4 linked regions of the Homo sapiens genome follow. The gene in region 1 interacts genetically with each later gene. Each region holds a gene or a part of one and is shown on either strand. Other genes may lie near its edges.

Region 1 (3,747 bases):
TTTTGTAGAGATGGGGTCTCACTATGTTGCCCAGGCTGGTCTTGAACTCCTGGGCTCAAGCAGTCCTTCTGCCTCAGCCTCCCAAAGTGCTGTGATTACAGGCCTGAGCTGCCATGCCTATCCTGATTCATCTATCTTTGAAGTGCCTCTAAAGTTTCCAAGTTGGGATTCTTAGTGTGAAAACCATATTGAATTAATTCAAAGGAAACTTTTCATGGATTTATATTATTATTTTTCCTTGAAATCTTTATAATAAGAACATTTAAAAAAACTGGGACTTGCTTTGTTTTTAGAATTGCCATGGGACCAACCCAGTGACAGCTGTCAGGAGTATTCTGACTGGAAAGAAAAAAAAACATACCTCAACCCTTGGAAAAAAATCGATTCTGCTCCTCTAGGTAACTGAATTATCTTGAGTGAAAGAGTACCGATTTCTTGGATATGAAGTCTTGTGCTATTTGAATTTTTTCTTACTTTTTTTTTTGTTTTAAACTTACAAATAATTCATGTTCGTTGTAGATAAAATAGTAACTATAAGTAAAAAATTAAGGAAAAAATAACTCTTTAGTCCCAGAACTCTGCAATAGATTTTTAAAAATATTTTGGGGAGTGTATATTCAGAGCAACTTGAATCTGCTCTTAGATGGCTTTTTACTTAAAGTTTTCATATGTGCTATACTTTGTTGCAAATACACTCGTTTGTTGCTTAATTATAGGGATGCACTCTAACAAATGTTTCATTAGGTGGTTTCATCATTGTGTGAACATCATAGAGTATATTTACATAAATCTAGATAGTATAGCTTACTATAAATCTAGGCTATTTGGTATACCCTATTGATCTCAGGCTGCAAACCTGTACAGCATGTTACTATACTGAGCACTGTAAGGAATTGTAACATAATGGTATTTGTGTATCTAAGTATAGAAAAAGTATAGTAAAAATACAGTATTATAATCTAATGGGACTGTCTGTTATACGTGTGGTCCATTCCTGACTGAAACATCATTAATGTGGCCCATAAGTATGTAAAATGAATATATGTATATTATTTATATGTGTTTTTATACAAAATGAGATCACACTAATAATATTTTGTAACTGTTTTTGGTTTTAGTGCGCAGCGAACATTCTTCCATGACTATAATTGTAGGTCTACATCGTTGGTTTAAAGGCTGTGATAATATTCTGCCATGTGGATATGCCTTACTTTACTCTTTTAATCACTTTGTTGGAGATTTTTCTAAATTTTCACAGATACAAAAGAGATATAAGTATCTGTGTAACTTAATCATGACACATACCCTTAAATTGTTCATTGAAATCCCCAGAAGCAAAATTGCAGGATCAAGGATGTAGTTTTTATTATTATGGCTTATTTTGTCAAATTGCTTCCCGAAAGTTCGAACCATTTCATCACAGTCTCATCAATTTACATTAAGGAAAAAAACTTTAAATAATAGTTTTTCATTTTTATTTTAAATTTAATACTAATGAAGTTGTATACCCTTTATGTATGTATTAGTTTTTTGTCTATTTTGCTCATTTTTGTCAAGGATATTGTTTTTCTTACCACTTTGAAGCTTTTTTTTTTCCTTGATAACACATTGACCTTTGCACTTGTTACAAATACTTTTCACAATTTATCATTTATTTTCATTTTGTTTTGCTATATTGACATTCAAATCTATTATCTTGTCCTTTGTGGTCCCTGACTATAATTTCTTTGGAAAGGTCTTCTACCTCTACTATTTAAAAGTTCCCTATGTTTTCATTTAGTGTTTTTATGGCTTCATTTTTCCATTTAAATCTTTGGTCCATTAGGAAATAATCTTCACATAGGAAGATACGTGAATTTTTTCTCAAGAAAATTAAGATACCTTAGGATGGTTAGTTAGATTACTGTCTCTTAAAAAGTTATTGGTAAGTAAATGTTCATTATAAAACTGTGTGAATAAGGAGGTCACGTGAGAACATGACATTGAAGTAATGAAATTCGGTATTGAAAATGGATAAGAGGGGTTTCTGTATCTTTTTGTTAATCTCGTCACATGAGGAGAAACATTTCCATCTGGCTCTTGTTCTCAGTTGCAAACAATTGAGAATCAGATCAGGGAAGACTACTCCAAGATACAGCAGCAGAGAAAAACTGCATGAAATTAAAGCAGTAATTTAGTAGCTTTAATTCTTTCTCTTCCCCAGGAATAATATTTAGACATAAGTAGGCTAACAGAAAATGTGTTTCTTACCTCAAGCCATAGGCTTCTCTAACATGATTCTTTCGTGAATGTTGTCGTAATGTTTGTTTTTAGCTCTGCTGCATAAAATCTTAGTTGAGAATCCATCAGCAAGAATTACCATTCCAGACATCAAAAAAGATAGATGGTACAACAAACCCCTCAAGAAAGGTAATATCCTTAAACTACAAGTTTGTTTGTTTTTCTGTGGAAGAAAAGGTAATTGCAAAGTTATTATCACAAGTCAACAACACATGATAGCTATGATCTCTGTCCTCATGGAGATTATAATGTCCAGTAGAAAAAAATACAGAAATAATTTTGTTTATTAATAATTATAAAGGGGAAAGTCAGGGTACTATAGCTAAGTGTTTGACCAAGTCTAAGGGACAGGGAAGACTTTTCTTCCTGAAGAAATTACATTAAATCTAAGATTTGAAGATTAAAGGGAAGCTAGGCAGGCAAAGTAAGTGGCAGATTTGATTCTGAACAGGGGAAGCAGTATTTGAAAAATCTTAGATTTTAGAAAGTCTGATGCTTTTGAGAAACTTGAAAGATCAGTATGGCACAAGCCGTGTCTGTTGTGTTCATCATTGTATCATCAGTGCTTTAGCACAGTATATGGTGCACCATAGGCACTCATTAAATATTTGTTGAGTGAGTGAACAGGGAAGTGGGAGAGGAAGACAGGTTTGAGATGAGGCCAGAGAGGTCGCTAGTGGCCAATTTGTGGAAGAAGACCTTGTAAGCCATGTTAAGGATTTTGGGCTTTAACTTAAGACCACTGGGGAGACCTCTGAGAGATTTTAAGCAAGACTATGACATAGTCATATCTTCGGTTTAAAAATATTTCTCTGACTTCCTTATTTTTTTTCCATTGTTTTTTATGAATAGGGAAAGATTCAGGGTGCTGTAGGTTTTTCTGCTAGTTGTCTAGAAGTGGGAGGCTGGTGGCTTGGAATAGGTTAGGGCAATGGTATTGGAGAAATGAGATGATTCCAAAGAAATTTAAGAACTAGTATTGATAGGACTGTTAGGCTGTGAATGGAAGGAGAGAGGACAATGACTAGAGATGATGAATGAAAAACATTCAGAGAGTTATTAATGTTTAACTCTGTCCTCATGGATAGAAAAGAGTTAATGTTTAAACATTCACTCTTCTTTAATACCTCTCTGCATGTTTCTTCCTCCTTGTCCTAACTTAAAGTCCAATTCTCCCCTGAGGACACTGCTTCCTCTGAAGCGGTAGGTGTTTTCTTTCCCATACCCTCATGTCCTTTGATCTGGACATGGTACAGGTGTCCTCCTTATTCTTCATTGTCACTTTCTCCCATCTTCCTTTATGTCTCTCCCCTCTAACTTTTGAACCCCAAATTAAAATTTCTGCCGTACTATCACAGTCTGCAAAATGACTCTTGATGTTATTTTCGTCATGATTCTTGGTGATTTAAATATTTATTTGGATCATCCTCCTGATATCCTGACTTCACTGTTTCTTGACCCTCTCTC
Region 2 (3,747 bases), on another chromosome or scaffold:
CCTGGGAGAAAAGGGCAAACTCAGTCTCAAAACAAAAAATTCTTTTGTATTTCTGGAGGTATGATACATACACAATAAAATACACAAATTAGTATAAAACTTGACACAATTTAACTTATATGACAATGTAATAATACTCAAATCAAAACCCAAAAGGCTCCCTCCTTTAAAACTCAATTGATAGCCACTCACAAAAGTATATACTAGTCTGACTTCTGTAACCATAGGTTAGTTTTTCTTGGATCTGAATTTTGTATTAACAAAAACAGGTGTGAGCCACTGTGCCTGGCCAGAAGATGTCTTTTATACTGACTCACATGTTGACCTTTTTTCTATCACTCTTTATTCTTCCATTAGATCCAGTCAGGTCCCAAACTGTTGTGTCAAATTATAGTTTACCCTGAATCAGGACTTTTGTCATGTTTCTAAATAATGTAAACTTTGTAACAGTTTATTCAATTTAATCTCCTTCTGCCTTTCTGCCATTCTTGTAATTTCTACACGTTATAAATCCCAAATATTATTGTTTAAACAACCTGTATTACTTTATATTTAACCACACAGATTACCCTTTTCTCTGCTCCTTATTCCTTCATGGAGTCATGTGCTTTCATCTGGGATCATTATCCTTCATGCTGAAGACATTCCTTTACTTTTCTTATACTGTGTGCTAGCGATAACTTCTGTACATTGTGAATGCCTACAAACGTCTTTATTTCACCTTCAATTTTGAAAGTAATGTCTACTGGATAGAGAATTCCAGATAGATAGTTTTTCTTTTCCAATTTAAAAATGTCCTTTGGCTTTGATCATTTTTGTTGAAAAGTCAGCTATCAGTTTTATTATTGTTCTTTTGAATGTAATATGTTCTTCTCTACCCTCGCCCCCACCCTCCATGTCTGCTTTTAAGATGTTAGTTTTTAAGAAATTAAGCATAATGTACCCGAGTGTGGTCTTCTCTCTATATAAATTTGGATCTGTTCTTTTTATGTGTGTGTTTTTCAGTAGAGGCAAGGCTGCTCTTGAACTCCTGGCCTCAGACAACCCTACTGCCCTGGCCTCCCAAAGTGTTGAGCTTGGCCTGGCTCTGTCTTTCTTGTTTTGTGAGTTGGTATCTTTTTATTTGTTCTGAAGTCTTTTTAGCCATTATATATTCAAGTATCACTCCTCCTCCATTCATTCTCTTATGGGTTTCTAATGATAAACATTAATTCTTTGGACTGTATCATTCATTTTTCTTTTTCTTCTTTTAATAATAGAGACACAGTCTTGCTATGTTGTCCAGGCTGGTCTCAAACTCTGGGGCTCCAGTGATCCTCCTGCCTTGGCCTCCCAAAGTGCTGAAATTACAGGTGTGAGCCACCGTGTCCAGCCTGAACTCTATCTCACATATCTGTTCCACTCTCCTCTCTTTGTCCTGGCCCCTCCCTACCTCAATCCAATTTTTTCTCTTGGTACTTTAGTTTCAATATATCTACTAATTTGTCTCTGAGTTCACTAACCTGTCTTCTGCTGTATGCAGTCGTTATTAAACCTATCAAATAATTTCAAGTATACTTTTCAGTTCTAAAATATTCATGATTCTTTTTACAGATTCTAATTCTCTCTTCAAATTCTCCATTTTCCCCTCGAATTTCTCTAATAGTGTTATTTTTAAAATACCTATCTACTAAGTCATATAGGAATATAAAAGGTAAGATAAATCATAATTGTTTTTAAAAATACCATCAGATTTGAGTAGAAAGCTCATTAGATGTATCTTAGAAGGACTAAGATGTGCTGGATTGCAGCCCATGTGTGATTAGAAAAATTACCTTTGCTAATGTTTTCTTGGAGTAAATGTCAGTACGGAGACCAAAGTTCTGCAAATCAACTGGTTTTTCCTTGTTTTTCTCAGGAAAATTTAGCATCTGTTGAGCAGCAGGAACCTGAGTCAAATAAATGATAAATGGCTGAGTTAGCCTCTTTAAAGTCAAGAGGGTAAATGTTTTTAAAAATTTGTTTGGGCCAGGCGCCGTGGCTCACACCTATAATCCCAGCACTTTGGGAGGCCGAGGCAGGCGGATCACAAGGTCAGGAGTTCAAGACCAGCCTGACCAACGTGGTGAAACCCGTCTCTACTAAAAATACAAAAATTAGCCGGGCGTGGTGGCACGTGCCTATAATCTCAGCTACTCAGGAGGCTGAGGCAGTAGAATTGCTTATAACCCAGAGGTGGAAGTTGCAGCGAACCAAGATCATGCCACTGCACTCCAGCCGGGGGAACAGTGCAAGATTCCGTCTCAAAAAAAAAAAAAAAGTTTAATATTGGCACTTAAACCACTCTTGGTGGATTTCCTACAAAAAACAATAAATACCCACACTTCTACACTATACTTCTAACAAAAATTCAACATATAAGTCACATTTTGGTGTCCCTTTAAATCCCAGAAAGGATAACAAATTTTCATTACTATCTTCTATTTCACAATGGGACAAAATTTATACCTTAGGTTCCTGTGAATCCAACTTAATGCTATATATAATTTGTTTGACATAATCTGTTTTGATAATGTATATATGGATATACACTTTACAAATCTTAGGACAAGTTATAAAGATTTCTTTGCTTCACATTTCTAGAACACAGATTGAAGGAAGGGAAAGAAGATTTTGCATCATCTGCTTACTTATGAGTGTCTTTTTGATGACAGAAGGATAATTTACTTTTATGCATATAAAAGTAAATTAATAATTTGACAGAGTAAGGCATTCGGTCTTGGGATTGGTGGGACAGCATTAACTTAAACACTATATATTCTTTTGGACTGTAATATTTACAGTACACCAAAATACACACACAAGCAAGGATCAAAGAAATAGCACTAATAATAGCATTATAGTATAATAATAATTGTTTCTAAATAGATATGCTATAAATGGCCATTTGTTACTATCCAGGTCTGATGAAAAGTCAACATTAATTTACCTGAGGTGATCGAAGATGCAGAGGCACAAGCCCAGAGGGGGTATCAGCTAATACATTAAAATGAGGAGTAGGAGGAGGTCCCATTGCCATGGGTCTACTTTCCGGGTCAACTTGGTAATTAACGAGTCCCCACTGCTCTAAAAAGGCATGGACCCTAAAGAATAAAGCTCGGAAAGTTAAAATCTAAAGAATCAACTTCATGTGCTTTTACTATCATCATCATGCCATTAAAAAACAGAAACAATAAAACCAGTAAATGTGCTCAGCAGGCTGTCAAACATCACAAACTACTTGACAGATTTTGTTATGTGACGAACAATTTCTACAAGCCACAAGTAATGTTGATAACACAGCACCCCCAAACCTATTACAAAGCCTAATCATTTCAATCACAGAAATGAGAGCACGAATACGCATTTAGGTCCATGGTAATAAAAGAACTCACACATAGACCAAATACACACATTAAAAAAATCCGCATTTTTCGTGACAGAGTCTCGCTCTGTCTCTAAGGCTGGAGTGCAATGGTGCGATCTCAGCTCACTGCAACCTCCTCCGCATCCTTGGTTCAAGAGATTCTCCTGCCTCAGCCTCCCAAGTAGCTGGGATTACAGGTGACCATCACCATGCGCAGCTAATTTTTTGTATTTTTAGTAGAAATGGGTTTTCGCCATGTTGGCCAGACTGGTCTCGAACTCCTGACCTCAGGTGATCTACCCACCTCGGCCTCCCAAAGTGCTGGGATTACAGGTGTGAGCCACCATGCCTGGCCGTTTTTT
Region 3 (3,747 bases), on another chromosome or scaffold:
TTCTAACTGAGACGTTTACCCTCTTGTCTCCCTTCAGTCTGCGGGCCAGGCATCGACATCCGCAACGACTATCAGCAGCTGAAGCGCCTGGAGAACTGCACGGTGATCGAGGGCTACCTCCACATCCTGCTCATCTCCAAGGCCGAGGACTACCGCAGCTACCGCTTCCCCAAGCTCACGGTCATTACCGAGTACTTGCTGCTGTTCCGAGTGGCTGGCCTCGAGAGCCTCGGAGACCTCTTCCCCAACCTCACGGTCATCCGCGGCTGGAAACTCTTCTACAACTACGCCCTGGTCATCTTCGAGATGACCAATCTCAAGGATATTGGGCTTTACAACCTGAGGAACATTACTCGGGGGGCCATCAGGATTGAGAAAAATGCTGACCTCTGTTACCTCTCCACTGTGGACTGGTCCCTGATCCTGGATGCGGTGTCCAATAACTACATTGTGGGGAATAAGCCCCCAAAGGAATGTGGGGACCTGTGTCCAGGGACCATGGAGGAGAAGCCGATGTGTGAGAAGACCACCATCAACAATGAGTACAACTACCGCTGCTGGACCACAAACCGCTGCCAGAAAAGTAAGAATGATGCTGACTGCTGCTTTCTCTCTGCCTCTCTCTCTCCTCTCCTCCTCCTTGACCTCCCTTCTCTTCTGAGTGCACGAGTTCCGCTGGGCAGGGTGCAGTCGTGTTGCATTTAGGACGTGGCATGCCTGCTGTGCGGAAGTGGTTCCCAGTGGGGGTCTTGGTTGGCTTTCCTTTGCATCTGGGACTCTTGGATTGCGGGACTGTGGCGTGGCTGGAGGCCATCATGGCTGCTGTCAAGACTGTTCAAATCACATGTTAGAAATAATCCAGCACACTCCTGGGCTAGACACTTGCTGACCTTCAGCTTTGAATTCCTGATGAGAAAGGTGACCTGGTGTGCTTGGAAGTCCCTGAGCCTTGGCAGCTGGGGGCTGCTTATGTGTCAGCTCTTTCATCCTTTGTGCGAAGTGATATTTTTTGTTCTGCAGGACTTCCTTAGTTTGAATGGACTTGGAATATGGTTAAATAAAGGGAAGGTAAAGCACTAACTCATATCCTGTGAAAGTGGTCCTTAGGTCCTAGTGATGATGTTATGATACTCAGGTGTCCTGGTTATGACAGAGCACCTGGCCCAGGTGGGAGACCTCTGGACCCATTTCTGCAAGTCCCAGGTTCAGGCTGTACTTGCAGGTAGCTGTGTAGCAGGGTGCATTTTTAAACCTCTGGGATTCTGTTTTCGTTCTTTTATACCTGTTTACTGAACAGTTGTGAAAATCTTAAGATTTCACGAGTGAAGGAACTTTGGAAAGTATTTACTGTTCTGGGGGTCAGATGGTGGTATTTTGAAGCTTCTTGTATATTTATCTGCAATATGCTTATTTTCCCTTGAGAATAACTGAGCTCTTGCCTTCATGTGATCAGTTCCTTAAGAACCAGGCTGTTTGGTATTAAAATGTGACTCTGAGCCTTCACCTTATTGCATTCAGCAATAGTTATGTATATTGGCTAGGAAGCTTTTCCTCACTGGTTTGAAGTCAGTGTGTTAGCTATAAATAGCTATTATTTAAGTGTTGGCCCAGTTAAAGATGTAAGGAACCCATGTTCTCTAGTTATGAAGAACCAAGAAACCCCAAATTGTTAGACTTGCCTAAAATAAATAAAAGGCGAGACCCCACAGGGGTGAAGTGTGTAAAGTAAATAAAGGACAGACCTCCCAGGTAGCCCTTCAGTTCCCGTTCAACCAGTCCTGAGGCAGGAAAAGGATCTGTGTACCCTGATCTGCCACGCACTTTTCTATTCTGCAGAATTGGATCAGTGCGTATGTGAACATTGATTAGTGAGGGCAGGGGTCCCACTGGCTGCAGCCAGTACCTTGTAGAGCTCTGAGAATGCAGTCAGGCCACTTTAAGGTTGGCTGGAGTTGGAGGGAGATCTTATGCTAAAGTCACTTGTGTGGTTGATTAAAACTGCCCTATCATTAAGTTACCCACTGGTTTGAGAAAACAACAAAATATATTTTTTAAATAACCTTGACATTTAAAAATTTTATCTGAAAAGTAAAAGGTGTTATCAAGGGAGGCAGCATGGAGTAGAAAAGAGATGTTGAATGTGGTGATGAGGGCCAGGAATGACCTTGGATGGGCCAGCCCTTCTGGGCTGTAGTTGGGCTTTTTTAGGATATTTCTAGGGCAGTCCAGTACATCCCTTAGTGGTGATCATATATGGGCATGAGGATGTTTTGAAAACTCATAAGCTCTTTAGAGAAGGGAGGTGCCATATGAAACGTCATTAAGTGGAGAGTTGTTCACGAACTAGGTAGGTAGTTACTTTGGTCTTGCCATAGGTTTTTGGCTGTTTCTGATGAGCTACTGATTGAAGACCCCTGGGGTAGGGGTGAGGCCTGCATTCTGGGTCCAAGTCTAAGAGTGGCGACTAGAAATGAGCAAGTTATTTAAATTGCCTGGGCCTTGGTTTCTTCATATGTGGAATGGGGTAAAGCCTGCCTTCCTCATAGGGCTGTTGGAAGATGAAAAGGAGGAAGGAAAAGCACCGTGAAAATGTTAACGATGGTTAGAAGGTGGGCTCTGCTGGTGACAGACAGAGCCTTGATATCACCTGTTGGTTGGTCACCTGCTTCCCCAAGGCCACGCCCTGCAGCCTTCTCCTTGACCATCCCAGCCCTGCTGATGTTCCTTGTGATTTCACAATGGAGTACTTATATAAAATTGGTAACTGCTTTCCGGGAAATTGACTTCCCTTCCCCTTGTCCTGAAAACTCAGGCATGGGCATATTTCTTGGAGATTTTCTAGTTGAATCAGAACTTCCTCTTGGTTTGCGTAGATTCCATTTAGACCTGCATTGTCCAGTGTGGTAGCCGCTTATTGAGTAAGCCACGTGGCTTATTGAGTACTTGAACTGTGGCTTGTCCGAATTGGGACTGCTTTAGGTGTAAAATATACACTAGATTTCCAAGACATAGTATAGCAAAAACTCTGTACACCATTTCATTAATAATTACTATGTTGATAACATGTTGAAATATAACATTTTGGATATATTAGATTAAGTAAAATGTGTTCTTAAATTTCACCTGCCTGTTTCCTTTTTATTCTTTTTTTTTTTTTTTGAGGCGGAGTTTCGCTCTCATCACCCAGGCTGGAGTGCAGCGGCGCGATCTCGGCTCACTGCAACCTCCGTCTCCTGGGTTCAAGCGATTCTCTTGCCTCAGCCTCCCAAGTAGCTGGAATTACAAGCATGTGCCACCATGCCCGTCTAATTTTTGTATTTTAACTGGAGACGGGGTTTCACCACCATGTTGGCCAGGCTGGTCTCAAACTCCTGACCTCAGATGATCCGCCCGCCTCAGCCTCCCAAAGTGTTAGGATTACAGGTGTGAGCCACCATGCCCGACTCTTTTTAATTCTTAATGTGGCTACTTGAAAATTTAAAATTACAGATGTGGCTTGCATTCTGTGTTGGTAAGCTGCTTTAGAGCATTTCTTTTAACACCAGGAGTTCTTCCCCTCATCATCTTTTTGGCTGAGTCGTCACTGCAGCGCTCATAGCCCCGCATGTACCTCTCCAGCCAGAACCCTTAGGAATCATTTGGGGAGCTCCATGAAGGGCATTGAGTCCAGGCAGAATGGCTACCTTGAGTTCAACATAAGCATTAAGATGGCCATTCGAAAACATTAAGCACAGAAGAATCCCATTC
Region 4 (3,747 bases), on another chromosome or scaffold:
TAGGATATCAAATCTTAAAGATGCAAAAAATCCAAATTTAAGGAAAAATGTCCTCTGTGGGAATATTCCTCCTGACTTATTTGCTAGAATGACAGCAGAGGTGAGTATGTGTGAATCTGAGGTTTCTATAATGTGATTCTGTGTTGTGAAGTGTAAAGCCTATTATCATCATAGACTACTATATAAATATTGCATATGTAATAAATTTCCGTTATTCTGATATATTTATATACTAGACAAATACTTAAGGTGATTGTGTCTTTTGTCAGTACTTTGCTCCCCCTCCAACTGTTTCCATGCTTTTAATGTGATTACACTAAATTATTTTCTAAAAACAAACGTGTTTTACTTTTTTTTCTTTCGAGACAGAGTTTTGCTTTTGTTGACCAGGCTGGAGTGCAATGGCACGATCTTGGCCCACCGCAACCTCCCCCTCCTGGGTTCAAGCGATTCTCCTGCCTCAGCCTCCCAAGTAGATGGGATTACAGGCGTGCACCACCACACCCAGCTAATTTTTGTATTTTTAGTAGAGACAGGGTTTCTTCATGTTGGTCAGGCTGGTCTCGAACTCCCAACCTCCAGATGATCTGTCCGCCTTGGCCTCCCAAAGTGTTGGAATTACAGGTGTGAGCCACCACGGCTGGCCACCAAGTGTTTTTTACTTTTTATGAATTAGTGTAGAACCAGAGAGTTGAATCTCTTAATTGCAAGTACACTTTGTAAGTGCTAACCTTTTTTGTGGTTAAACACTATAAAATTGGTCACATCATATTGATTATTTCTTTTTTTTTTTTGATACGAAATTTTGCCCTTGTTGCCTGGGCTGGGATGCAATGGCATAGTCTTGGCTCACTGCAACCTCTGCCTCCCGGGTTCAAGCGATTCTCCTGCTTCAGATTCTCCTGCTCCTGTAATCTCCTGCTGGGATCACAGGCGTGAGCCACTGTGCCCATCCTATTGATTATTTCTTAAATTTTTACAGGGAATTATGGAAAAAATGAAATTTATAGCTTGCTATTTATAGACATGGTTGTTCATAGATATTAGCTATATTGTATCTACAATTTCAACGTTTTAGTGAACATTGAAGAGAGTGAATTTTTCTTCTGTACACAAACATACCTCAGATACATTGCAAGTTTGGATTGGACTACTGCAATAAAGTGACACACGAGTCACACAAATTTTTTGACTTTCCAGTACATATAAAAGTTATGCTTATACTATAATCTACTAAATGTACAATAGCATTACATCTAAGAAAACAGTGTACACCTTATACCTTGCTAAACAATGTACACCTTGCTAAAAATTGCTCATGATCATCTGAGTCTTCAGCAAGTCATACTATTTTTCTGGAAAAGGGAATTGCCTGGATGTTGACGGCTGCTGACTGATTAGGGTAGTGGTTATTGAAGGTTGAGGTGGCTGTGGTAATTTTGTAAAATAAGACAACAGTGAGATTTGATGCATTGATGGAGCAAATATTCATGAAATATTTCTTGGTAGCCTGTGATGCTGTTTAATAGCATTTATCCATAGTAGATGTTCTTTCAGAATTGGAGTCAGTGCTGTCAAATGCTGCTGCTGCCTTATCAACTAAGTTGACATATTATTCTAAATCCTTTGCTGTCATTTCAACAATGTTCACAGCATCTTCACCAGGAATAGGTTCCATCTCAGGAAATTACTTTTTGCTCCTCCACAAGAAGCATCTCATCTATTCAGCTTTTATTATGAGATTGAAGCAACTCAGTCACATCTTGAAGCTCTACTTCTAATCTTCCTTCTCATGCTTTTTCCATTACATCTGTGGTTACTTTCATTTTTTTTTTTTTTTTTTTTTTTTGGTGGGGAATGGAGTTTCACTGTTGTCGCCCAGGCTGGAGTGCAGTGGTGTGATCTCTGCTCACTGCAACCTCTGCCTCCTGGGTTCAAGCGATTCTCCTGCCTTAGTCTCCTGAGTAGCTGGGATTACAGGCGCCCGCCACCAAGCCCAGCTAATTTTTGTACTTTTAGTAGAGACAGGGTTTCACCATGTTGGGCAGGCTGGTCTCAAACTCCTGACCTCAGGTGATCCACCCGCCTCGGCCTTCCAAAGTTCTGGGATTACAGGCGTGAGCCACCGTGCCTGGCCCCTCTGTGGTTACTTTCTCTGGTGAAGTCAAACCCCTCAAAGTCATCCATGATGATTGGAGTCAACTTTTTTCAAACTCCTCTAAATGTTGACATATTGACCTCTTCTCAATGAATCACTAATGTTCCTAATGGCATCTAGGATGGTTAATCCTTTCCAAAAGGTTTTCAGTTTACTTTATTCAGATCTATCTGAAGAATTACTTTTTGTAGAAGCTACAGCCTTGCAAAAAGTATTTCTGAAATAATAAAACTTGAAAGTCAGTTGGGCATGGTGGCCACACCTGTAATCAAAGCAGTTTGGGAAGCCGAGATGAGCAGATCACTTGAGTCCAGGAGGTGGAGACTAGCCCGGGCAACATAGCAAGTTCCCATCTCTACAAAAAAAAAAAAAAAAAAGAAAACTTAGCTGGGCATGGTGTGGTGCGTTCCTGTAATCCCAGCTACTCAGGAGGCTGAGGTGGGAGGATCACTTTAGGCCAAGAGGTGGAGGTTTCAGTAAGCTGAGATTGCACCACTGCGCTCCAGCGTGGGTGACAGAGTGAAATCCTGTCTCAAAAAAAAAAAAAAAAGTCAGAATTACTCCTTGATTCATGAACTGCAGAATCAATGTTGTTGTTAGCAGGCATGAAAATAACATTAATCTCCTTGTATGTCTCCATCAGAGCTATTGGATGACTAGGCATATTGATGACTAAGTGCATTGTCAATGAGTAGGAATATTTTGAAAGAAATCTTTTTTCTGAGCAGTAGGTCTCAATAGTGGGGTTAAAATATTCAGTAAATCATGCTGTAAATAGATGTGCTGTCATCCAGGCTTTGTTGTTTCATTTATAGAACACAGACAGAGTAGAGGTAGCATAATTCTTAAGGGCTGTAAGATTTTCCAAATGGTAAATGAGCATTGGCTTCAACTTGAAGTCACCAGATGCTTTAGCCCCTAACAAGAGAGTCCTTCAAAGTCCTTTGAGGCTTTGAAGGCAGGCGTTGACTTCTTCTCTTTAGCTGTGAAAGTCCTAGATGTCACCCTCTTCCAATATTCATCAACATTGAAAATCTTTGTTTAGAATAGCTACCTTCATCAATGATCTTAGCTAGATCTTTTGGATAACTTGCCGTAGCTTCTCCATCAGCACTTGCTGCTTCACCTTGCATTTTGTACTATGTTATGGAGACAGCTTCTTTCCTTAAACCTCATGAACCAGCTTCTGGTAGCCTCTTGACTTTTCTTCGGCAGCTTCCTCATCTCTCTCAGCATTAAAGAGTTAAGGCCTTTTTCTGGATTAGGCTTTGGCTTAAGGGAATGTTGTGGTTGGTTTGATCTTCTGTCTAGGCCACTAAAACGTTTTCATATCGGCAATAAGGCTATTTTGATCATTATTCATGTGTTCACTGGAGTAGCACTTTTAATTTCCATCAAGAAATTTTCCTTTGCATTCACAATTTGGCTAACTGGTGTAAGAGACCTAGCTTTTGGCTTATCCCAGCTTTCCATATGCCTTCCTCACTAAACTTAGTCTTATTTCTAGGTTTTGATTTAAAGTGAGACATGTTGACTCTTCCTTGTCCTTGAATACTTAGAGGCCATTGTAGGGTTATTAATTGGCCTGA

Evidence for each region.
Region 2: changes in CHEK1 (region 1) and SMARCC1 are lethal when combined (synthetic lethality), as found in Homo sapiens cells (one large-scale study listed by BioGRID).
Region 3: changes in CHEK1 (region 1) and IGF1R together harm fitness more than expected from each alone (negative genetic interaction), as found in Homo sapiens cells (one large-scale study listed by BioGRID).
Region 4: changes in CHEK1 (region 1) and TCEA1 are lethal when combined (synthetic lethality), as found in Homo sapiens cells (one large-scale study listed by BioGRID).

What each region holds. Positions count from the first base shown.
Region 1 is NC_000011.10:125,635,136-125,638,882, forward strand, and holds part of CHEK1 (serine/threonine-protein kinase Chk1), read left to right. Parts: intron 1-293; coding exon 294-398; intron 399-2,313; coding exon 2,314-2,409; intron 2,410-3,747. UniProt on the Homo sapiens protein: Serine/threonine-protein kinase which is required for checkpoint-mediated cell cycle arrest and activation of DNA repair in response to the presence of DNA damage or unreplicated DNA.
Region 2 is NC_000003.12:47,673,661-47,677,407, forward strand, and holds part of SMARCC1 (SWI/SNF complex subunit SMARCC1), read right to left. Parts: intron 3,123-3,747; coding exon 2,969-3,122; intron 1,929-2,968; coding exon 1,815-1,928; intron 1-1,814. UniProt on the Homo sapiens protein: Involved in transcriptional activation and repression of select genes by chromatin remodeling (alteration of DNA-nucleosome topology).
Region 3 is NC_000015.10:98,707,525-98,711,271, forward strand, and holds part of IGF1R (insulin-like growth factor 1 receptor isoform 1 precursor), read left to right. Parts: intron 1-37; coding exon 38-583; intron 584-3,747. UniProt on the Homo sapiens protein: Receptor tyrosine kinase which mediates actions of insulin-like growth factor 1 (IGF1). Binds IGF1 with high affinity and IGF2 and insulin (INS) with a lower affinity. The activated IGF1R is involved in cell growth and survival control.
Region 4 is NC_000008.11:53,980,716-53,984,462, reverse strand, and holds part of TCEA1 (transcription elongation factor A protein 1), read left to right. Parts: coding exon 1-100; intron 101-3,747. Other genes in the region: LYPLA1-TCEA1 readthrough, read left to right, coding at 1-100.